7 linked regions of the Homo sapiens genome follow. The protein of the gene in region 7 purifies or fractionates together with the protein of the main gene of each other region. This does not show direct contact. Each region holds a gene or a part of one and is shown on either strand. Other genes may lie near its edges. The genes, in order: C1GALT1, COCH, SH3BP4, SLC39A11, ACAD10, TMEM192 and NTRK3.

Region 1 (3,500 bases), on a different chromosome or scaffold from region 7:
ATGTAAAGAAAACAAAAGGAACAAACCTAAACAAATGAAAGAAAATCATAGACAGAAAAGAGTAAATTTTCTTTACCATCTCTACCACTATCTCTCCCCAAAAGTAACTGCTTTCGTATCGTTGGGTAATGCCTATATCATCACATATGTATGTTCAGCTTTTAATTTACATCAGAGATCATGCTTATCGGTTAGTCTGCACTTTAATTTACCCCTTCACTTATTTTATCCATAACACAATGTCATTCATTTTAACAACTGTATAAGATAAAAGGTTTATTTTTTAAGACAATGTACCGAAATATTTTCTAGTATGATTTCACTTGGCTTTTTAAATGTTTCTGTATATATTTTAAAATCTGTTAAGATATATATACATATGATATTTAACAAGAGCTATCTCTGGGAACTAGCACTGGGTGGCATGAGCAAGGAAGGACAAATTTTTTTTTATTTTATAACCTTTTGATGTTTTAATTTTGCATCGGGTACACACATTACTTTTCTGATAAAAATTAAATAAAGGGAGGCAATTTTTATCTACAGAGTGAAATAATATGATAAAAATTAAAGTCCACTAATTTCTCCACACTTGTCAAACAAAATGATCTCTTGATCCTTTCAGACTTCTCCAAGTTTCAGATTCACATACACAAATGCCTGCTAAATACTTCCACCTGGACCATAGGCATCTCTAATTCAACACCTCCAAAGTGACTCATTACTTTCCTCTGCTCATTTTACCTTAATTACTGGTAATTACCTAAATTATTCACCAATGGGTTCCTATTTCACTCAGAGCCACAGGATTATCTAAACTACAAAGTACACAGATATTCTTAATGCTTCCCTTATCTTCACCCCAAATCCAATTACCAAGTCTTGCCAACATTACTTCCTAAATATTATTCTAATCCATTGTCTCCTCTCCATTTCTAGTATTTATCCTATTTCAGACTCTCCTCTCTCCCCACAGGCTATTACAATATCTAACCTCTCTGACTCAAGTGCTATCCCTCTTTAACTCATACCCCGTCACCAGAATGAGCTCTCTAAAATGAAAAGCTGACCATGTCACCCCATGAATCCTTTCACGGAACTCCACTGCCTACAAGACAAAAACTAAACATTTTTTATTAACATGATATATAAATAAAGGCTATGACCTAGAGCCTGTCCAGGTTTCCAGCCTCGTCTTTTGCTATTCTGTGCCTTATAATTTATGTCTGCTTCAGCAATCCTGAACTGTCTACAGTTACTGAAAGGTTCCCAATATGGTCAGCTCCTCTTCCTACTGTCTTCTCTGACTACAACACTTGCTTCCCACCAACCTCTGTAAATCCCATTAAACTAAGGTTTCTTAACCTTGGCGCTACTGACATTAAGAGCTGGATAACTCTCTGTTGTGGAAGCCGTCCGGTCCTCTGTAGGATATTTAGCCAGCATCCCTGGCCTTTACTCACTAGATGCCAGTAGTATTCCCCCTAGTTGTGACAAACAAAAATGTCTGTAGACATTGCTAAATGTTTCCAGGTAACAACCTCTCCACTAATTTGTTAAAACTGTTTCTCACATTTACATAAAAGATCTCCCCTGTCTCTACTAAAAATACAAAAAAAAAAAGAAATTAGCTGGGCATGGTGGCAGGTGCCTGTAGTCCCAGCTACTGGGGAGGCTGAGGCAGGAGAATGGCGTGAACCCAGGAGGCAGAGCTTGCAGTGAGCTGAGATCGCGCCACTGCACTCCAGCCTGGGCGACAGAGTGAGACTCCGTCTCAAAAAAAAAAAAATCTCAGGAAGAATAGAGATAAGACTACTTTTAACACTAATTGCCTTTGAGGAGGACAACTGGGTAACTGGAGTGGGATGAAAAAAACTTACTTTTCAAACCATTTACTGTGCGTTTTTAGTCTTGTACCTCTTCTGACTTCTCCACTGCTATCACCCTGGTCTGAGCAACCTCTCTGTCTTTTAACTACTCCAACAACATTCTAACCAACTTTCCCCTTCCTTTAGCCTTTGCTTCTTTGGCCCATTTTTACCAATAGCCACAATGATCCTTTTAAAACTGAAATCAGATCACATCACTCATTTGCTCAAAACCCTCCCGTCTTCCTAATCTTAGAGAGCCAAAACCTTACAAGGATCTACCCACAATCTGCATCCTACTCCACCCCTTTCTTTCTGATCTCTTCTCCCCAGTATTTGGTGTTTTTGTAGGTCAAAAATGAACAAACAGCAGCAATTTCATAGATTGAACCTAATACTAACTGCTTGTCATTCCTCAAACGTGCCAGGGTCTTCACACTTAACTGTTCTCTGCTAAGAACACGCACCCAGGTGCTCATATGGCTCACTCTCCAACTCCTTCAGGTCTTTACTTTTCAGGAGTCTTCACTGGCCACCCTATGCTTACCCACAGCACCTATTAATATCAAATATTATTTTACTTATTCATCTTGTTTACTGTCTCTTTTCCATCTTGATCAGTGGTTCTGAAACCTGAGTCTCCATCAGAATCATTTGGAAGGCTAGTTAAATAAAGAGTTCTGGGATGGAGCCTGAAAATTTCAATTTCTAACAACTTCCCAGGTGATGATGATGCTGCAGATCCAGGGACCACATTTTTAGAACCCGTGTTTCAGAATGTAAGCTCCATGAGGACAGAGATTTTTGCCTATCCACTGTTTTATCTCCAGGACCTGGCACATAGTAAGCACTTGCTGTGGTCTGAATGTTTGTCTCCTCCAAAACTCATGTTGAACCTTAATCACCACTGTGGCAGTATTGAGAGCTGGAGTCTTTAAATGGTGACTGGGTACTAAGGGTTCAGCCCTCATGAATGGGTTATCATGGGAAAGGAACTGGTAGCTTTACAAGAAAGAAAGAAAGAAAGAAAGAGTTCTGGGCTAGCATGCTCGGCCCCCTCACCATGTGGTGCCCTGTGCTATCCTCAGGACTCTGCAGAGTCCCTACCAGCAAATGCCCTCACCAGATGTGGCCCCCTGAACCAGGACTTTTCAGCCTTCCTAACTGTAAGGAATAAATTTCTTTTCTTTATAGATTATCCAGTTTCAGATATTCTGCTAGAGGCAACAGAAAACAGATTAAGACATCACTGATATATGTAAATAAATGTAAGTGTCCCATCCTGTTTCCACTATAGCCTCTGATTCAGTCTATAATGCTAAACATTTACTGAACGATGTAAAAGATAAACCGTGCAACTGTTACAGGTTAAACTGTGTCCCCACAAAAGATAGGTTGAAGTCCTAATTCCAGTACCTCTGCACGTGACCTTATTTCAAAATAGGGTCTTTGCAGATGTAATCAAGTTAAGATGAGGTGATTAGGGTGGATCTTAATCCAATACGACTAGTATCCTTGCAAGAAGTGGAGCACACCATCTGAAGACAGAGCCACACAGGGATTATGTTGTGATAACAGAGTCACAGACTGGAGTGACATAGCTGCAAGCCAAAAAATGCTAAGGATTGGCAG
Region 2 (3,280 bases), on a different chromosome or scaffold from region 7:
ATAAAAAATACTTTTTACAAGCTAGATGTGGAACTTAAATTGCATGTGTTCTCTGTTTTAAGAATAATCTTTCATCAGTATCTGTAAAAATATGTGAGTACATTGGCAGAGGTACTAATGTGTAGAAAGGAAAAAGGTTATGTCATTAGGAATTAAGTAGGGAAAATGAGGTACAGAAGAGTGTTAAAAAAAACAAGTCCATTGATTCTTCCCTCCTGTCACTCAGTTATATCCTCAGAAAGGGAATCTTAGCTTTTTGTTGGCCTATTTGATCTCTAACACATTACGTTAATGTCTTCAGGAACGAGGCCTGTGCCAAAAGTAATATTAAGGCTGGGGTGAGGAAGAAAGAAACCCTTCTTATACCCTTTTATAACACCAGAGTGTGTTTTTATTATCTTAAGCGGGGGGGAAAAAGTTTTTTTTTTTTTTTTTTTTTCTTTTTGAGACAGAGTCTCACTCTGTCGCCCAGGCTGGAGTACAATGGCACGATCTCAGTTCATTGCAACCTCTGCCTCCTGGGTTCAAGTGATTCTCGTGCCTCAGCCTCCTGAGTAGCTGGGATTACAGGTGTATGTTACCACACCCAGCTAATTTTTGTATTTTTAATAGAGACTGGGTTTTACCATGTTGGCCCGGCTGGTCTTGAACTCCTGACCTCAGGTGATCCCGCCCACCTCAGCCTCCCAAAGTGCTGAATTACAGATGTGAGCCACTGCACCTGGCCAAGGAAATTTTGATGGGATAGGTAAAGTCTATGGGAGACCTTATCTTAGGAAACTCATGCCAGACAAAACTTGACTAAAATAAAAGTTAGGGTTGGGTGTGGTGGCTTATGCCTGTAATCCCAGCACTTTGGGAGGCCAAGGTGTGAGGATTGCTTGAGCCCAGGAGTTTGAGATCAGCCTGGGCAACAAAGTGAGACCCCCGTCTCTCCCCAAAAAAATTTAAAAATTAGCCAGGGGCAGTGGCATGTGCCTGTCGTCCTAGCTATTTGGAAGGCTGACACAGGAGGATTGCTTGAGCCCAATAGTTGGAGGTTGTAGCTCACTACATGCCACTGCACTCCAGCCTGGTGACAGAGCAATTACCTGTTTCATACACAAGAAAGTTAGGATAAATTACTGAATGGCAGATTCATGGTAGGTTATAAGCTGGCTATTTGGAGATATAGTCCAAGTTTGAGCTAAATATGAGCACCTTAATTGTATATGTATAAGCATATTTCCTTAATGTGACATGGTTCTCATGGCAATTCTCCCAACAATACAGTGGTTAGGAATGTGCACTCTGGAGCCAGAATGCCTGGGTTTGGATCTTGGCCTTGCCACTTACTAGAAATGTCATTTCCAGGAAGTTTGCTTCCTTATCTGTAGAATGAGATGAGTAGGGCTGCTTTAACAGTTAATATTGGGTAAAGCCACAGGTGTTTGTTTAATGAAATAAATGCTTAAATTTTTATTTACTCCTAAATTCACTGAACCGTTTTTTCTGTTCCCTTCTCCTATAAAGAACAAGGACCTTACCTGCATCATGTGCAGCAGCTGCAGGGCCTTGGACATCATCATAGGACTGCCCATCTGTGACAATTACTAGGAAGTTCTTGTTGGGGCTCTCCCTTATAGGGCCAAACACATTTCTAACAGTGAAGGAAATGGCATCACCAGTAGCTGTTCCACCACTCATATAGCGGATGTTTCTGATGACAGCTAGGACATTCTCTTTGGTGCTATAGTCAGTGAAACTGAACTCCGTGCGCTGATCATAAGTAAACTGTACAGCAGCTATCTTGGCACCAATGTCCGAGATTTCAAAAGTCTTGGCTATGTTGGAAACAAATTCAAGCATGAGGCGGAAATTGCTATCTCCAACACTGCTGGAGCCATCAATTAGAAAGGCAATGTTCACTGAGTTATAACAGGTCTTGCTGCACATCATTTGTTCATGAGTGCACAGCTTCTGTACCAGAGGCTTTACGTATTTTGTGGTGCCAAACCAGTTGGGCATGTGGTAAGAGAAGAAGCCATTATTCCGACAGACAGCCTAATGGGGGAGACACATAAAAGATATCCAAAAGGATCAAAAGTTGTTTCTTCTTAAAAACTGGAAAATCCTGAATGTTTCAAGTTAATCTAGATAAGAGGCAGTCAGCACTGCACTTAGAGGTCCAAAATGGAATACCCATCACTGTAACAGAAGATAACCCTCACCACTTTACCTTGTCAACAAATGTGACATCCTGAACCATCCCCAGTTCTTCAGGGATAGGCTTGGCCACAGAAACTATAAATACATTGACACCAAACTCTCTGGCCACAATGCCTGCTTCCTCGATGTCATCAGAAGGCCAACCATCAATAAATACCACCACCACTTTGGGGATCCCTTTTCTTACTCCAGCATCTACCGTGAAGAATTTCTGAGCAGTATGCTTCAAGGCTTTTCCTAAATTTGAAAAAGAAGCAAACAAATAGCCTTTACCACTGCTCAAACCACATTTCTGTTTCCCTGTAGCATTTGATGCTGCAAAGTTTAAGAATTATATATAGAACTGGCAGTGGGGCGGGGCACACAAAAAAGAATTATATAGAACCCAGTTCTGTAACAGATGCATCAGCTGGGAAAGTTTAATTATCTACCAGGCCTATTTATCTTCACAAGCCATATTAGTTCCCCCTCCACCTCCTAGAAGCCTCACATTTGTTTACCCCACATCAATCGCCAGTTAGAAACACAAAACTGATTCCCACTTCCATGCATGTGCTCTCTATGTAGCCCTTTGGTGACTGATTAGTACCTCTAAGAAGTCTCTCTTCAGAGTCAACGGTAGTGCTACTCATTCTTTCTGCCACATCTGCATTCATTAGATAAGTCTGTTGATTTTCACTTCTTTTTAGCATTACAAAGAGATACTTCTCCAATGTTATATCTAGTCAATCCAATGTATGAGAATTCTAAATCACCATGCTTTATATTTTTTAAAATAAGAAATATCAACACTTTGGTATACTTCCATTATAAATTGAAAATTTATCTCAGATGATCAAATGCAGACCTAGCCAAGATTTCAGTTCCAGGAGGATTTCACATCTGCTCATATAAAATAGCATAATACTGTTTTACATGTCTGATCACTGATAACCCTCTCCTATGTTACATCCCAGGTATCAAAGTCTACTTACCTGTATTGGAATTACCCCCTCTGAAACCTACTTCCTTTATGGCAAACAAAACATCTTTGGCTGATGTAAAGTTTTTCAAGTAAAATTCTATTTTGGGA
Region 3 (3,500 bases), on a different chromosome or scaffold from region 7:
CGTTGGGGTTCTGGGAGGTGATGGGGAAGATCAGGCGGCTCACCTTGCCCAGCTTCAGCTGGAATCCTCGCACCACTTTGGCCTGCTCGCTGGCTTTGACCTCGTAATTCGTCATATTGGAAAACATACAGACCTTGAGATCCTGGGGCCTGGACAAAACGAACTGGTGCTTCCCCCACAGCTGCAGGGCCACCGGGGCAGGGTTGGGTGCCTGGCGTGTGACCTCGCTGACCAGGAGCGTCTTTGGGGCACAGTCATGCCCAAAAATGGTCACTACCGTCTTGAAGGATGGGTGGATGTGTTTAGGGCCGTAGAGACCCACTGTGACTTTTTTATTGATGAAGTCCCACACGGTGGAAGGGTAGAGGATGCTTGGGCCATGGGCCACGACAGCCACGTACATACAGGGCTCCAGGTTGTGCAGCTGTGCCTGGACCGTGTCCCCACAGCTGCAGTTGAGCGGGACGGAGACATATGGCCCTTCCTTCGAGTCGCTCCTCAGGCACTGGAGGCCCACTGTGCTTTTGCTAAAAAGGTCATTTTTTATCTCGGCTGACACTTTCATCTCCAAGATGATAGAGGTTTTCACCTCCAGGTTGCTCAGCTTGACCTCCAGCACAGGGCTGATGCTGCAGGACCTGTCACTGTTGAGCTCCAGCGGGGGGTCCAGCAGGGCTTTCATGGAGATCTGCTGGGTCTCCCCAGGGGCGACGTGGCCCTCGGGCACGTGGATGCTGATGCTGGTGTCAGGAAGCTGGACAGCACCCCCGGAGCTATCCAGCTTGCACACGATGTTTGTCTCCACGGCTTGGGTCTGGCCCCAACCAGGGCTTTGGCCAAGCAAGTCCAGGTCGTGGCAAGACCGGGCCAGCTTCCTGTGGTTTAGCCAGGCAGTTCGAAAATCCTCCCGGCTCTGAAATTGCTCGGGGGCAGGTGATTTCAAGCCGGTGAAGAAACTCGACGATGTGGGAGCATCGGACTTGGCTTGGAGGACGGAGAGTTCCGAGAGACTGTAGGAGCGCTTGCTTCTGAAGAAGGGGTTGTCCCGCCTGACCGGCGGCTCTGCGTGGAGTCCGTTTGTGACTGGAAGCTCATCGAAGATGTTGCCAGTGCTATTCGTGGTGGCTGAGCTGGATTCGGTGAAGGAGGATGTACCTGCGTCAAAAAGGAGCAAATCCACAGTACTTTTGGGATTCAGCTCATCCAGGCTGGGCATGACGGGCACGTTCCCATTCAGAAATGGATTGGTCTGGACCCCATTCCAGAAAGGGTTATTACTGTACATTCTGCCTGGTACTTTTTTGTCATCTGTCCATCCCCCGAGCAGCTCCAGCTCCTTGGCTACCTCGTCTGGGCTGTCTGGAAGATTATCAATCATACCGCTGTCACTCAGTGTTGAGTTCCGGTAGTTCAAGGGCTGCACATAGGAGGAGGGGATGTAGCCCATTTCGGTGGTGTTGTGTGCGTACCACCACTCACCGCCAGATGTGTCCAAGACGTAGAGATGGTCGCCCTTGGAGAACTTCAGTGTGGTGAAGTTGGTGGGGCAATAGTCCTTGATCGCAATCACTTCCTTTGCATTTCCGAAAGGTGTGGGGTTGTCTACGAGCAAGGCACTGGGAGAAGGCACTGTGCAAAACACAAAGAAAACAGATGGTGAGGGCAAGGCCGGCGGGGTGTCCGGAGAGCTTCCCAAAGGAGAGAGGACGGTGGTAAACAGACAGGTGCACAATAACCCAGGCAAGTCACCAACAGAAACAAACCAAAGTGAAATTCAGTAGGTAATTTACCTGGCCAACGAACTGGTTCCTGCTACTTGGTCACCTTCAAAATCGACAGCCTATGTCCGGCAGAAAGACCACAGAGGAGCCTCTCCATCACTCACAGAAAGGCAAATCAGTGCAATGGAATATTTAACATGCCCTACGCCCTAAACATCTCATTTTGGGCAACGTTAAAATTCTTCTTAAAAGAACTGCTACTAGATACAAAGAGAAACTGAATGTGATTAACTTAGAAAACACGGTGACACGGTGAGTTAGGTGACCACTGCATGTGATCAGGGACTGGAAATGAACAGATTCCAAAAACTCCCGCAATGACATGTATGAGCTGATTCCAAGCTCTGCCTCTGGATGGAAAGCTTCCCTCAACCTGCTTCTTAAATTTCCAAACTCAACCTGTTCCTCACCAAACTGTTTCCTCAGATAAAGTAAGAATTCTGAAGTCAGTTCCTTCCAACCTCTTTTATTCTTATTTTACTTATTTATTTATTTATTTATGAGACAGTGTCTCACTCCGCCACCCAGGCTGGCATGTATTGACATGATCTCAGCTCACTGCAACCTCAGCCGCTCAGATTCAAGTGATTCTCCTGCCTCAGCCTCCAAAGTAGCTGAGATTACAGGTGTGTGCCACCATGCCTGGCTAATTTTTGTATTTTTAGTAGAAATGGGGTTTCATCATGTTGACCAGGCTGGTCTCAAACTCCTGACCTCAAGTGATCCTCCCGCCTCAGCCTCCCAAAATGATGGGATTACTGGTGTGAGCCACTGCGCCTGGCCCAACCTCTTTTAAATTATCATTCAAAATCACAACATGAAAACAGACTGTCTACATACCTTGAAAATGAGAGATTATGCCTAGTCATAGCTCATACTATCATTGAACAAGTGTTGAAGCAGTCTGAAAAATTCCAACCCTTCAAAAAGTGAATCAAGTTAATTCATGGCTCCTGCCATTGAACTCTGTATGTTACCAATGTAGACGGCAAATGAAACAGCAAAAATAAGTCAGCCAAACAAGTGGTGTGTTTTGAAAAATAATGGATATGATTAAATGAGAAGATATATTCAGAAGATGAAGAACACTCTTTCTGAAGAAAATAAGCACATATACTTCTCCCCAGGACTCCCCTCCCCCACCTCCCAAACTGCCTCACTTACGGAGTCTGCTGACATTCTGGCTTCCCGTAATAAACAATTGAAAGAAAGAAAGGAAACGTTTCTTTCTTTCTTTCTTTCTTTTTTTTTTTTAAGTTGCCAAAGCAAATGACCAAAGAAAGGAATCCGTTTTTAGTTAAACTAAACCTACATCTTTTCTAATGTGATGAAGTCCACAGTCATCGTATTCTATCAAATTGCCCCCCCGACCCCAGAAAATCACCTGCCAGTTTCCTTTTCCTTTGAAAGGAAATAATCACACTTCCTTGGGAAAGTGTTAGGAAATCAGGTAGACAGTTTCTATTCATTTACATTAACTGGGTTACAGAGATGCGCTTAGCTGGGAGCATCCCTGGGCCTTGAAGCCCCACCTACCTCCTCCTGTGAAATTACAGCAGGCCCGTCTATCTGGGTGTCTCAGAGAACCCGGCTCTGGGATCACTAAACCCAGACTCGAGTGGAGCCCTTAGAAACTGTGTGATCTCCAGAGCCTAAGACTCCACTCATGGTGGACAAAAAGTGTATTTCCTCAATGAGCTTTGGAGAGGACAAAATGCA
Region 4 (3,500 bases), on a different chromosome or scaffold from region 7:
AGAGAGGGGGAGGGAATAAGGAAAGGAAAGGCAAATGAAGAAAGAGCATATCCCAAGGCTGGGGTCCCAGCTGGGACTGGGACAGGGACAGACAGGGAGGGAAGGTTCTCCAACCTGATCTGGGCTTCGGGGATGATGTCGTCCATGACCACGTAGACCATGGCACCGGCAGCAAAGGCCAGAGCGTAGGGCAGGATGGGCTCAGCCAGCACCACGGCAAAGGCACCAAAGACCCCGGCCAGGGGCTCCACCATGCCGCTCAGCTGCCCATACCTAAGGAGAGAACAGAGACATTTACCACCGCAGGGGGAGGCAAGCAGACACTCCACGTGCCCAGACTGTTGGCTCAACCCTAGCACATGGATGCATGCCATTCTACGTCATATCTGAGCATGGCAGTGCAAAAGCACATCACTGTTTTGTTGAAAGAAGCCCACATGGAGGATGCTGTGACATGGCCTTGCCCTTGGGCAGCACTCACCAGAAAGCTCTCCAGGTGGAGAAGCCTGCCCCTCGCAAGGGAAGGCTGACAGCCAGGCCCTCGGGGAAATTCTGGATCCCGATTCCAATGGCCAAATTCCTGAAAAACCAAGAAAGCACATGAAGGCTGCTGTCTGGAATAGGTGCTCACACAATGGGAGTCCCTGGCCGAGGCCAAGACCTCCGTGGGTGCTAGGAAGCCAGGAGGAGACCTGTGACCTGCAGTAGGAGAGGAAGGAGAAAGGTCAGGACGTGTGTCTAGGTAAAGAGCAGGGGCTGCAGGAGGGAGTGACGTGAGCCCTCTACCCATCATGCTGTCCTGGGTCCTGGGCAGGCTCTGTCCTTACAATGCTTTGCTACAGCACAGAACACACTGGCTGGCTCTCAGGGTGCCCTGAGTTCTGCCACGTGGCTGTATAACTGCACTTTTCATTTTACTTTCTACGCCTCTGTTTCTTTTTCTTTTTTTCTTTTTCTTTTTTTTTTTTTTTGAGATGGAGTCTCGCTCTGGAGACTCCAGGCTGGAGTGCAGTGGCATGATCTCGGCTCACTGCAACCTCCACCTCCCGGGTTCAAGTGATTTCCAGCTAATTTTTGTATTTTTAGTAGAGATGGGGTTTTACCATGTTGGCCAGGCTGGTCTCCAACTCCTGACCTCAAGTGATCTGCCTGCCTTGGCCTCCCAAAGTGCTGGGATTATGGGCGTGAGCCACGGCACCCAGCCTACACCTCTGTTTCTTGTATACAATTTAGGGACAACAATATCTACCATAAAGGATTGCTGAGTGACCCAGTGACCCAATAATGCCTATCACATCCTAGCATAGAGAGGTGCTTAATGCATTTTGGTTTCTATTCTGTTACAGCACAGAAATGAGTATATCACATTTTATTCAGAGGCCACTTCAGAAATGGGACAAGGAAGTGCAGCTGCAGACGCTGATGGTGCCACAGATCTGGCTCTGGGCTCAGCTTCTCCGTGGGCTCTGCAGGTCTGGCACCATCGCTGCATTTCTTTGGGCCCCAGTGGTGCTCACAGTGATCCTCTCACCTCCTGCCTCTGCAGGACAGTGACAGGCTGTGCTGATAGATGCCTGTCTTTGAGAAGCTGCTTTCTGCACAAACCAGGCATTGGAGTGTGAGAGGAGGGAGAAGCAAAATGGGATGCGTACAAATGCAATCTGTGACCACATGCCTGGCCTCAGGGGGCTTAGTATTTAGCCATGGAGACAACACAGGCATGTACATGAAGAACCCTTATTGTGGATGCTGCAAACTACAGCAAATCAGCCAAAAGTCAACTTGCACAGGAAACAGAGGCATGAGGGAAGCAGAGGAGGGAAATGGGGCCAGTCCGAGTGCCTTAGGAAGGCCCTTTTGCACGTGAGACTCTACCTTGGCCGGACAGTTCCAAGAAGCAGCCCCTCCATGAAGGGCCATCTGATCAACAATGATCTAAAGGGCGTGAGAAGAGGGTGCCACTCGGCAAGCAATGCTGGTGTGTGGCCCGAGGGAATTGTGGGTAGATTAGATAGAGAAGAGAAACTCCACCATCACCGACTTTCAGGTCAACTGGCTCACGTCCATCCATCTTGCTGCCAATAGGAATCTACCCATTGCTGCAAGGGAGTGTTGTAGACTGGTAGCTGGGACCCCTGCCTATGACCTGCCCCAGGCTCCCGGGACTGGGACACACTCGTGGCCCTGAAGGTCCTGTCAGGCCTGATCCGGCTGAGGCCCAAGTTCCAGCCTCTAACAAAGAACACCAAGGCGAATCCCCAGTTTAGCATCTGACCTCCATTTTGTTTCAGGGTTTGGCCTTTACCCTGTTTTTTTTACCTTTATCCCCCAACTCCTGCACATGTTTCATTGAGGTTCGTAGTTCCAGATACCTCAGGAAGAAGTAGCCCCCACCTCGAGTCTGCCAGTCAAGTAGACTCTTAGGAAAAGTCCAGCCCTAACAGAATCTCATACCTGTCACCACTTAGCTCACATGTGGTTCATAGAATTAGTGCCCATCCCTTTTTGACAAGATTACAATGAGCCCCTCAGCATCTACCCATCAGCTTAAAATCTGCCCCTGTGTGCAACAGCGTTGAGAGCCACTGGCCTAAGCAGGCATCATGGGAGGTGAGGATGAGGAAAGCAGTCAAGCCCACCCCCCTCCCAGGAGCCCCTTCCCTGCTATCCCAATTCCCAACACAGGCTGGGAGCCGAGGACACCTGTGGCCACTACTGAATGCATCAGGAGCCTGCAGCCCAGGGTGCTTACTGTATACAAGATCTGATGTGGAGAGCTCTGGAGGAGATCCGGAGCAACACAGGACAGGAGTAACAAAACAGGTGGCATTAGGGGACATGGATATGTAACAGAAGTGATGGAGAATAGTGAGCACCCCGTGGCAGGGATGGTCCCCCTAGGGTGGGGTTGGGGGAAGAAGCCCTGAGCTGACTTAGGAGCTGTGGGGCCTAGACTGGCTGGGGGTGGGAAACTGTGAAGAGGGACAAAGCAGCTTCCCCAGGGGGCATCTGAAAAGTGATAGCATCCGAAAACTGATCAGTTCCTTAATAAAGGAAATATTATGGTCTCTTGGGACTGACAGAAGCATTGAGCCTGTCTCTCCAACCTGCAGGCAGAACTGTTCATGAAGTGGAGTGGACAGACAAGAAGACACCCCACCACACCAGCCCAGGACATGTCCACAAAAGCTGCATCACTCAGCATTTCCCACGAGTCTACCCAAATCCCTGTCTATATCACCCAAGTTTGTGCTCTCCTTTGACTCCTTAGAGAGGGGCTCAAACATGCTCCAACTTCATCCCTGGATCTAGGGGGCAGCAAACTTTTTCTGTCATGGGCCAGATAGTAAATATTTGAGGTTTTGCAGTCCACTGAGTCTCTGTTGCAACCACTCAACTCTGACATTGCAGGTGCAAAAGTGGCTATGGACAGTACATAAACCATTGAGTGTGGCTGTGTTCCAATAAAACTTTATCTACACAAATGAGTGGGGGGCCAG
Region 5 (2,774 bases), on a different chromosome or scaffold from region 7:
GGGGATGGTTCCTGCCCGTCTGGTCTAACCTGAGACGAGTTTTGGCTACCCCACCACGAGTTATGAGACGAGCAGGCTGGGGCCTCACTGCCCCTGGCTCACCTCTGCATGTCGCTGGGTTTCTCAAGGAGCTCAGACTGCAAGTGAGTAAGCATTTCCACTCTCCTCAGAGAAGAGAGATTGTGCTCCAAAGTGTAATGGCGAATGGGCCACCACCTCCCCTTCGCCCAGATATTCTGACTATGGAGCAGGTGGAGGCTGCAGGGGCCTCACATGCCAGCTCCTGGGTAAAGTATGTATGAGCACAGAGCCCCGGGCTACATAGTGAGGGAAGGCAGCCAACTCGGGACTTATCGGACCCGTGGCCTCTGTGCTCCCAGCATGTATGGGGCTGAGATGATGGCCTGGACCTCGAGGAAACACAGGCAGGAGGAGGCATGAAGGCGCTGAAGGGAACCTCTCCACTCGATTCTCTTTGTATGACACAGAAAGTCCACAAAGCCTCCGAGATGTGTTTACTTATTCTTCTGTGTCCCCAAAACCCCTTTCCAAAATAACATTTAAATGATTGTTCTGTGCTGTGTGTTCAAATGGAGATAATCAGATGCCAGTGGCTTTACAATGTGGGTTGCATTCCATTTTCCCAGGCGCCCAGGTCCTGGGTCTCTAGGCCACCGCCCGCCGTGGCCGCCCCTCTGCTCACCAGGGAGGCCAGACAGGAACCCTGCAGCTGCCAGAGCAAGCACGTCCCACAGCCTTGGGAGGCCTCCCAAAATGTGTCCAGATTCCCACAGGCAGAGAGAGAGGGACTGAAAGGCTGAAGTGAAGTGACCGTGCCTGCCCAGCCTGGGACTGAGAGCCTGAAGACCAGCTTTCCAGACTCTGTCCCAGAACCCCCTTGGCCCTCAGCAAATCCCCTCCTCCTGGCCTGAAACAGACTCCAGGCTTCTTGCAGAGACGTCTTCTGTGGAGAACCAGAAAGATTGAGTCCACCCTGACTGTCCCGGGACAGAGCTGCTGAGCAGGGTGCAGGAGCCACAAACACCGGATCTTTCGAGGCACATCAGTGACAGATCTGGGCACAGCTGGACCAGCCAGGACATTGAGCCACTGCAGCCCCAAGGCTCTAAATGCGGTGCTTCAGCTCTAGCTTGGCCACCGTGGCCCGGTGCACCTCGTCAGGGCCGTCGGCAAAGCGCAGGGCTCGGGCCCAGGTGAAGAACTGAGCCAGTGGGTAGTCGCTGCTCAGGCCTGCTGCTCCAAAGGCCTGGCAGACACAGAGTGGAGGGAGGCGGCCCTGGGTCAGCCCTTGTCTCCGAGAGCCCCAGGAATGATAGCCTGCTCTTGATGGCCCATAACAACCATCTTCCCGGACTTCCCTGTGGCACCTATGTGATACAATCACTAATATTCCAGAGGGCTTCCATGGGGCCACACCTGCCATCCCACGGCCTCCAGACTCCCCAGGCCCACTCTGCAGGTGCCTTCTGCCCTGTGCTGGGGCCGGGGGTTAGGATCTAAGGAGGCGGCCCCCCTGCATGGGAAAGAGCCTGGGCTCTGGGCTTATGAAAACCCAAGTTCATGTGAATTTGAGGTCAGCTACTTGCAAGCTCAGTGACCTGGACAAGTCACTTCACTTTTCTGTGCCTGTTTCCTCACATTCAAAATGGGGGTACGATGGCACCTCCCACCTTGCTGGGTCATTCTGAAGAGGAAAAGGAAAGTTGCATGCATGGTGAGTGGGTGACACAGGGCATCTGCCAGGGTCTATGGGAGGCTGGGCGGCTGAAGATAGGAGAGTTTGGCATCTAGTATTGATGGTTCAAATAAGCCAACTGTCTGGTCTGTGCTCACCTGAATCGCACGATCAATCACTCGGGAGGCCATGGACGGGGCGACCATTTTAATCATGGCTATATCCAAGGCTGCAGCCTGTAAGGAGGAGGAGATGCGATCATAAAAGACCCGAGGGCAGCCTGGGTGGCAGAGTGAGGCCCCCCCGTCCCCCATCTCTACTAAAAATACAAAAACTAGCAGGGTGTGGTAGCATGTGCTTGTAGTCCCAGCTACTCAGGAGGCTGAGGTGAGAGGATTGTTTGAGTCTGGGAAGTTGGGGGCTGTGGTAAGCTGAGATTGCAACACTGCACTCAAGCCTGGACAACAGAGTGAGACCCCCTCTCAAAAACAAACAACAGGCCAGGCGCGGTGGTTCAGGCCTGTGATTCCAGCACTTTGGGAGGCCGAGGCGGGCAGATCACCTGAGGTCAGGAGTTTGAGACCAACCTGGCCAACATATAGTGAAACCCAGTCTCTACTAAAAAATACAAAAATTAGCTGGGCGTGATGGTGCACACCTGTAGTCCCAGCTACTTGGGAAACTGAGGCAAGAGAGCTGCTTGAACCCGGGAGGCGGAGGTTGCAGTGAGCCAAGATTGTGCCACTCTACTCCAGCCTGGGCCACCGAGTGAGACTCTGTCTCTCAAAAACAAAACGAAAAACTAAACCACAAAAAAGACCCGAAGGCAGAAAGCCTGGAAGAATGATCAGATTCCCAGCAAGAAGTCAAACACCACCGTCCAAAACAGAGGCCCCAAGGTCTCGCTGATGTGAGCTGGGTGAGGCTGCCCCTGCCTGGTGTACGGCTTGACAGCACCCAGGGATGAAGGGCGCCATGTTGGCAACTATTATCTTATGTCACAAGATGCGAAGCAAGTGCTGGCAGAATGTGGCTGTCTTCCCAGATGACGGGGAACACAGCCAGCACACACTGAAGG
Region 6 (3,500 bases), on a different chromosome or scaffold from region 7:
ACCTCCCAGGTTCAAGCAATTCTCCTGCCTCAGCCTCCTGAGTAGCTGGGATTATAGGCGCCCACCACCACCCCAGTCATGCCCAGCTAATTTTTTTTTTTTTTTTTTGTATTTTTAGTACAGACAGGGTTTCACCATGTTGGCCAGGCCTGTCTTGGACTCCTGACATCAGGTGATCTGCCTGCCTCGACCTCCCAAAGTGCTGGTGTTACAGGCGTGAGCCACTGCACCTGGCCCAAATACATTTTGAACTCAAATATTATTAGGCCGGGCGCAGTGGCTCATGCCTGTAATGCCAGCACTATGGGAGGCCAAGGGGAGCGGATCACCTGAGGTTAGGAGTTCGAGACCAGCCTGGCCAACATGGTGAAGCCTCGTCTCTACTAAAAATATAAAAATTAGCTGTGTGTGGTGGTGCGTGCCTGTAGTCTAGCCTGGAGAGGCTGAGGCAGGAGAATCAGTTGAACCTGGGAGGCAGAGGTTGCAGTTAGCTGAGTTCATACCACTGCACTCCAGCCTGGACAACAGAGCAAGACTCTCAAAAAAAAAATTATATATATATATATGTATTTGGATCTAAGGAAGGAGAACAGATTAATCAGGTAAATATTTTCACTTGGTAGGAAAGCAAAGCCCTTTCTCCCATCTCCACCCAAAGGTAAATAATTTTTTTTCTTCTCTGGAAAATAACAAAATATATCAGGCTGAAGTTAATATTATCAGTACTGTTATCTGTAAGTCCTACATCCTACATCTCCATAGATTTATCTTTTTTTTTTTTTGCAAATAAGAAAAAATATTTTAAAAAATAGAAATAAGGTAAGTACCTGCTCCATTCCGTTTGATTTTCTGGGTTTTCACATGAGCCACATAAACGTGATATCACCTGTGATTCTAAAGGTCCAAGTGTTCAGAAATAGATTATGATTACGGCTCACATGTTTAACAAAAATTTGAAAGGCAGATTTTGGAAAGGTAAAGATCAAATAATCTCCTTGTGAGCTTCCAAAATACTATTTCCAGACCATCACTTGAGAAACTGAGTATTATTTTGGTCACAGATCATATAAGATCTTTTGTAGTTTAAAATTAAGTTTTTTCTTTTTTTTTAATCTTTGTGTTACCCTGACATCTTCTGGCCAAAAGAGAGAGCTGCACATCAACAGTTGAACATTCTCAAGCTCATTCTCACAAGAGGCAGGGAGCAATAAATGCTTCCCCTTCAAGAGCAGTCAGGATCACCCAACTCTATAAACTGCTTCACGCTGATATAGCATAGCCCTTCAGCTTCCACTGAGAATTTCACTGAGTAGATGAACTTGCAGCATGCCCTTTAAGAAAATGCACTAACAGGCCGGGCGCGGTGGCTCATGCCTGTAATCCCAGCACTTTGGGAGGCCGAGGCCGGCGGATCACAAGGTCAGGAGATCGAGACCATCCTGGCTAACACGGTGAAACCCCGTCTCTACTAAAAATACAAAAAATTAGCCAGGCGTGGTGGCGGGCGAATGCAGTCCCAGCTACTCGGGAGGCTGAGGCAGGAGAATGGCCTGAACCCGGGAGGCGGAGCTTGCAGTGAGCCGAGATAGCGCCACTGCACTCCAGCCTGGGTGACAGAGCGAGACTCCATCTCAAAAAAAAAAAAAAAAAGAAAAAAGAAAATGCACTAACAGAACAGAAGAAAAATAAAAGTTAAATTCTGTGGAGCCTTTTTTTTTTTTTTTTGGAGAAAAAAATCTCTAATTTGATCCAATTTTTTTTTCTTTTTTTATAGAGGGGGGTGTCACTCTTTCACCTAGGCTGGAGTGTGGTGCATAATCATAGCTCACTGCAGCCTCAAACTCCTGGGCTCAAGTGGATCCTCCCACCTCAGCCTCCCAAGTAGCTAGGACTACAGGCACAGGCTACCACACATGACTAATTTATTTATTTTATTTTATTTTACTTATTTATTTATTTATTTTGAAATAGAGATTTATTTATTTATTTAGAGATCGAGTCTCACTCTGTCACCCAGGTTGGAGTGGCACGATCTCAGCTTACTGCAATCTTGATCTCCCGGGTTCAAGCGATTCTCAGCCTCCTGAGTAGCTGGAATTACAGCCACCTGCCATCACACCCAGCTAATTTTTGTATTTTTAGTAGAGATGGGGTTTCATCATGTTGACCAGGCTGGTCTCAAACTCCTGACCTCAAGTGATCCTCCCGCCTCAGCCTACCAAAGTGCTGAGATGCTAGCATTACAGGCATGAGCCACCGTGCCCGGCCTTAATTTTTTTTTTAGACAGAGTTTCGCTCTTGTCACCCAGGCTGCAGTGCAATGGTATGATTGCAGCTCACTGCAACCTCTGCCTCCCGGATTCAAGCAATTCTCCTGCCTCAGCCTCCCGAGTAGCTGGGATTACAGTTGCCCGCCACCACGTTCAGCTAATTTTTGTATTTTTAGTAGAGACAGGGTTTCACCATGTTGGCCAGGCTGGTCTCGAACTCCTGACCTCAGGGAATCTACCCGCCTCGGCCTCCCAAAGTGCTGGGATTATAGGCGTGAGCCACCACGCCCAGGAATTTCTTTTTTTTTTTAAAACTTAACTTGGTGCTCATTTGTTACAGCACTAAATTTCTCATTTTTGGTAGAGATGGGGGAACTCACTATGTTGCCCAGGCTGGTCTCGAACTCCTGGCCTCAAGCAATCCTCCTACCTTGGCCTCCCAAAGCTCTGTGATTATAGGCATGAGCCACCATGCCCAGCCTGGATTCAAAAAAAATTTTTTTTTCTTTTTCCTTCTTTTTCTTTTTCTCGCTGCCTCCTCCAAGTAGGAAGACTACATATGGATTCAAGTTTTTTTTTCTTTTGAGGCAGTGTTCCGCTCTTGTTGCCCAGGCTGGAGTGCAGCGGCATGACTTCGGCTCACTGTAACCTCTGCCTCCCAGGTTCAAGCGATTCTCCTGCCTCAGCCTCCCAAGTAGCTGGGACTACAGGCGCGTGCCACCACACCCGGCTAATTTTCGTTTGTATTTTTAGTAGAGATGAGGTTTCACCATGTTGGCCAGGCTGGTCTCGAACTCCTGACGTCAGGTGATCCTTCCGCTTCGGCCTCCCAAAGTGCTGGGATTACAGGCATGAGCCACCGAGCCTGGCCTGGATTCAAAAATTTTTAAGATTTATTCTGGACTCAAATTGAAAAACAGGATCTTTTTAAAAGGTAGAAACTAAGTTATTTACTACAACTTTTTTTCTTTCTTTTTTTTTTTTTTTTTTTTGAGATGGGGTCTCACTCTGTCACCCAGGCTGGAGTCTGGAGTGCAGTGGCATGATCTCGGCTCAAGCAATTCTCCCACCTCAGCTTCCAGAGTAGCTGGGACCACAGGGGCACACCACCACACTTGGCTAATTTTTGTGTTTTTAGTAGAGAGGGGTTTCTCCATGTTGCCCAGGCTGGTCTCAAACTCCTGACCTCAAGGGATCTGCCCACCTCAGCCTCCCAAAGTGCTGGGATTA
Region 7 (3,500 bases):
ATAAGATTTCAATACCAAAAGGGTCTTGTGTTTACATTTTCCCAGCAAACAGAAGACCATAAAAAGAATTGCGATGTTTCATAGGGATGTTTCATAGGTCGACTGGGTTGAAAGACTGAGCTCCTTACTGCCTACAAACTGCACTGAATTCCCTGGGGCAACATGGCATGGTCCATGCATCACTGAGAAGCATCTTGATGGGCTTTGGAGGCAGAGGAGTCCTAGGATTACAGCCCAGGCTTTGTCCCTGCTTTGGAGGCTCTTACCTGTGAGACCCTGGCCAGCCCATTTCAGTACCTCAAGCAGACCCCCTTCCTTTAACCTGAATCTCAACAGGTGTTTTTGCAAAAATTACTGAATTAATAGAGCTAACATGCTTAGAAAAGTGCCTACCACTAAATGTCAGCTACTATTAATTTATGTTTACTAGCATTTTTTATTATTGCAAATTACAATTATAAAAAATATAATGGCTATTTATTACTAAGTTTAACAGTAAACATACTAATAAACATAGTAAAAACATAGTAATAAAATAAACACGGTTTATTTTATTCCTAGACGTTCACACATGACTCTACCAGTTATAAAACTGGTCTTCCCAAATTGACCATCTGGTACATCCCTGGGCTTGGCATACCTAAAACCTTTGTGCACCCAGATTATGTGGGCATACTAAGTAGTGGGTGTTTCCACAAGATGGCACAATTGAAAAACTCATAGCTGTTCTGTTTTCCTTTTTTGTCATAGTGAAACATTTGTGATTTTTAAGGGTAGCAGATTTAACAGAGGCATGACTTGAGTCTCAATTTAGACCTCTGATTTCATGCTCTTTTGACAATTACACCACATTTCCTACAGTTCCATTTTTTTTTTCCTACTAAGAAGCTCTCTGCTCCCACTAATGCCTGCATTCACTCTGCTGGCTCTAAATCCCACCTAATGTCTTGTTCAGTAGGTCCAAGTTCTGGGCTGAGATAGCTCTTATGAGCCCTCCCCCAATCAAGATTCCTACGCACCCCCTTTTTACCTCCGTGTTTGAGAGTTGGAACCATGGCTGCTTTCCATAGGTGAAGATCTCCCAGAGGATCACCCCGAAGCTCCATACATCACTCTCTGTAGTGAACTTCCGGTACATGATGCTTTCAGGAGGCATCCAGCGAATGGGGAGCATGGTGTGTCCTCCCACCTAAAAGGGGTTGAGATAGAGGCACACAGAGTGACCAGATGGCCAGAATGAGTGTTATCTGTCTGCACTCTTCACACATAGATGCACTCTTGATGCATCCTATTCTAAGATAGTCACAGCTTTATGCAACTTCTATCAGAGGTGTGTGAAGATGCTGACTTTGGAGACCTACGATAAAGGAGACAGCTAGACTAGCAACTAGAGGTAACACCTGAGGGAAGGTAGGTTCCTTGGCACTCAGTGTGTAGAAAGATCAAGGTAATCTGAAGTGAGAGAGAAGGTTTCAGAATCTAGCACTACAGAAAAATCTAACCTTAAGAGCAAGTCCAGCAAGAAGTCAGCAGAATGACTAAGCCAGTCACCAAGGATCAGTATCTGCAAACATCAGGTTAGATTCTTGGCTGCAGTGGCACAGTATATTCCATGTGCATCTGATCTGCAGAACTTTAGCTTCTAACTGACAATCTCGAATCTCTCACCACAATTTAGGACTCAGTGTTTCAAGTGAAGGAGACAGAGACATTCCAAAAGCGTGGAAGACCACGTGCTAATAAGGTAGGAGATGGACAGAAAGAGAATTCACCACAGTTCTTAGTAAGATCTCAAAGGACAGTAGGGAGAGTCTTTAAAAATAGCCTAAGGAGGATATCAACCACCTGTGAATCTGCCAAACTGAAAGCCAAGGGGAAAAGGAAGTGACTGACAAGGATAAACACCCAGGGTACCCTTTACTGAGAAAAACATTAGGGAACTCCTCTTTGCCCAGCAGGCTAGAGATGTTAGCATAAGTGGGAGAAAATTCACAGCATGTGTGAAAACTCAGGAACTAACTGCATCATTAGTAAATAGATTTTCAGGAACTGAAACTTTTGCCTAATACATGGAACTCATTGTTAAAAAAACTACTTAATATTGAAAAAAGAGTTGTCTATTTATGTCCGGATGAGGTATTACTTAAAGTTCTCATTTCCTTCTTTCTTATTTATTTATTTATTTATTTATTTATTTTGAGACGGAGTCTCGCTTTGTCACCCAAGCTGGAGTGCAGTGGCGCGATCTCGGCTTACTGCCAGCTCCACCTCCCGGGTTCACGCCATTCTCCTGCCTCAGCCTCCCGAGTAGCTGGGACTACAGGTGCCCGCTGCCACACCCGGCTAATTTTTTGTATTTTTAGTAGAGACGGGGTTTCACTGTGTTAGTCAGGATGGTCTCGATCTTCTGACCTCGTGATCCGCCTGCCTCGGCCTCCCAAAGTGCTGGGATTACAGGCTTGAGCCACCGCGCCCGGCCTAAAGTTCTTATTTCTATGGGGGGTCAGTTAGAGAAATAATAACAATGAATAATTAAGAACGAATAAGTTGGGAGATGGGCAATCTTGTTTCCAAAAAGGGAAATCATGTTTGCCTTAACCACTTGAAGAATTTTAGGAGGTAAATTATAATACAAGTTTGCAGAGCAGTTCTTTTCTTTTCTTTCTTTTTTCTGAGACAGAGTTTCACTCCTGCTGCCCAGGCTGGAGTGCAGTGGCGCGATCTCCGCTCACTGCAACCTCCGCTTCCTGGGTTCAAGCGATTCCCCTGCCTTAGCCTCCTGAGTAGCTGGGATTATAGGCATGAAACACCATGCCTGGCTAATTTTTGTATTTTCAGTAGAGACGGGGTTTCACCGCATTGGTCAGGCTGGTCTCAAACTCCTGACCACAAGTTATACACCCACCTTGGCCTCCCAAAGTGCTGGGATTACAGGCGTGAGCCACTTTGCCTAGCCAGAAAAGTTATTTTCAACCTGGGACTTTCTAATCAGGATAGTTTTGTATCCAGTGTAAAGAAAACTGAAGATACTTCTTTCAGACAAGCAAAGACTCAGAAAGCTTACCACTCACATCCTTTCAGAAAATATAGGAGCCAAGCTAATTGAATACATATTCTAGAAAAACAGTAAAAATAACCCAAGCTATGCAATTATTGGAACATAACAAAAAATGCAGAGCAAATAAGCCACAAAAATGCAATTTAAATTTGAATAATGGTTGTTAATTTGGTAGTAAAAGTAATACAATTACTAATAAAGGCTTCCTGTAAAATAGAGACATAAAGTAAATAATAATACTAATAATGCTATTAGTACTACCACTGATACAACTAACATACTTATCTGGAATGAAACTTTCCAATAATTTCAACCATAAATGCATAGAAGAGTAGATATAGAAATAATTAAAAGCCTGATAAAGGCTGTATGTTATAGAAAGGAAAAAAGAAGCTTACAGTGATTAATTGTTGAGATTAACACTTTAAATTTAAATATGCTT

The links.
Region 1: the proteins of NTRK3 (region 7) and C1GALT1 purify together in Homo sapiens (affinity purification with mass spectrometry; one large-scale study listed by BioGRID and IntAct). This does not show direct contact.
Region 2: the proteins of NTRK3 (region 7) and COCH purify together in Homo sapiens (affinity purification with mass spectrometry; one large-scale study listed by BioGRID and IntAct). This does not show direct contact.
Region 3: the proteins of NTRK3 (region 7) and SH3BP4 purify together in Homo sapiens (affinity purification with mass spectrometry; 2 studies listed by BioGRID and IntAct, with this or other methods). This does not show direct contact.
Region 4: the proteins of NTRK3 (region 7) and SLC39A11 purify together in Homo sapiens (affinity purification with mass spectrometry; 2 studies listed by BioGRID and IntAct, with this or other methods). This does not show direct contact.
Region 5: the proteins of NTRK3 (region 7) and ACAD10 purify together in Homo sapiens (affinity purification with mass spectrometry; 2 studies listed by BioGRID and IntAct, with this or other methods). This does not show direct contact.
Region 6: the proteins of NTRK3 (region 7) and TMEM192 purify together in Homo sapiens (affinity purification with mass spectrometry; 2 studies listed by BioGRID and IntAct, with this or other methods). This does not show direct contact.

Annotation. Positions count from the first base shown.
Region 1 is NC_000007.14:7,185,544-7,189,043, reverse strand, and holds part of C1GALT1 (glycoprotein-N-acetylgalactosamine 3-beta-galactosyltransferase 1), read right to left. Parts: intron 1-3,500. UniProt on the Homo sapiens protein: Glycosyltransferase that generates the core 1 O-glycan Gal-beta1-3GalNAc-alpha1-Ser/Thr (T antigen), which is a precursor for many extended O-glycans in glycoproteins.
Region 2 is NC_000014.9:30,884,559-30,887,838, reverse strand, and holds part of COCH (cochlin isoform b precursor), read right to left. Parts: coding exon 3,183-3,280; exon of another isoform or gene 3,165-3,182; intron 2,855-3,164; coding exon of another isoform or gene 2,798-2,854; intron 2,446-2,797; coding exon 2,219-2,445; exon of another isoform or gene 2,044-2,218; coding exon 1,527-2,043; exon of another isoform or gene 1,513-1,526; intron 1-1,512. UniProt on the Homo sapiens protein: Plays a role in the control of cell shape and motility in the trabecular meshwork.
Region 3 is NC_000002.12:235,039,017-235,042,516, reverse strand, and holds part of SH3BP4 (SH3 domain-binding protein 4), read right to left. Parts: intron 1,630-3,500; coding exon 1-1,629. UniProt on the Homo sapiens protein: May function in transferrin receptor internalization at the plasma membrane through a cargo-specific control of clathrin-mediated endocytosis.
Region 4 is NC_000017.11:72,648,689-72,652,188, forward strand, and holds part of SLC39A11 (zinc transporter ZIP11), read right to left. Parts: intron 581-3,500; coding exon 482-580; intron 274-481; coding exon 115-273; intron 1-114. UniProt on the Homo sapiens protein: Zinc importer that regulates cytosolic zinc concentrations either via zinc influx from the extracellular compartment or efflux from intracellular organelles such as Golgi apparatus. May transport copper ions as well.
Region 5 is NC_000012.12:111,754,826-111,757,599, reverse strand, and holds the end of ACAD10 (acyl-CoA dehydrogenase family member 10), read right to left. Parts: intron 1,933-2,774; coding exon 1,855-1,932; intron 1,268-1,854; coding exon 1,127-1,267; 3' UTR 501-1,126; downstream 1-500.
Region 6 is NC_000004.12:165,095,861-165,099,360, forward strand, and holds part of TMEM192 (transmembrane protein 192), read right to left. Parts: intron 1-3,500.
Region 7 is NC_000015.10:87,879,240-87,882,739, forward strand, and holds part of NTRK3 (NT-3 growth factor receptor isoform a precursor), read right to left. Parts: intron 1,190-3,500; coding exon 1,031-1,189; intron 1-1,030. UniProt on the Homo sapiens protein: Receptor tyrosine kinase involved in nervous system and probably heart development.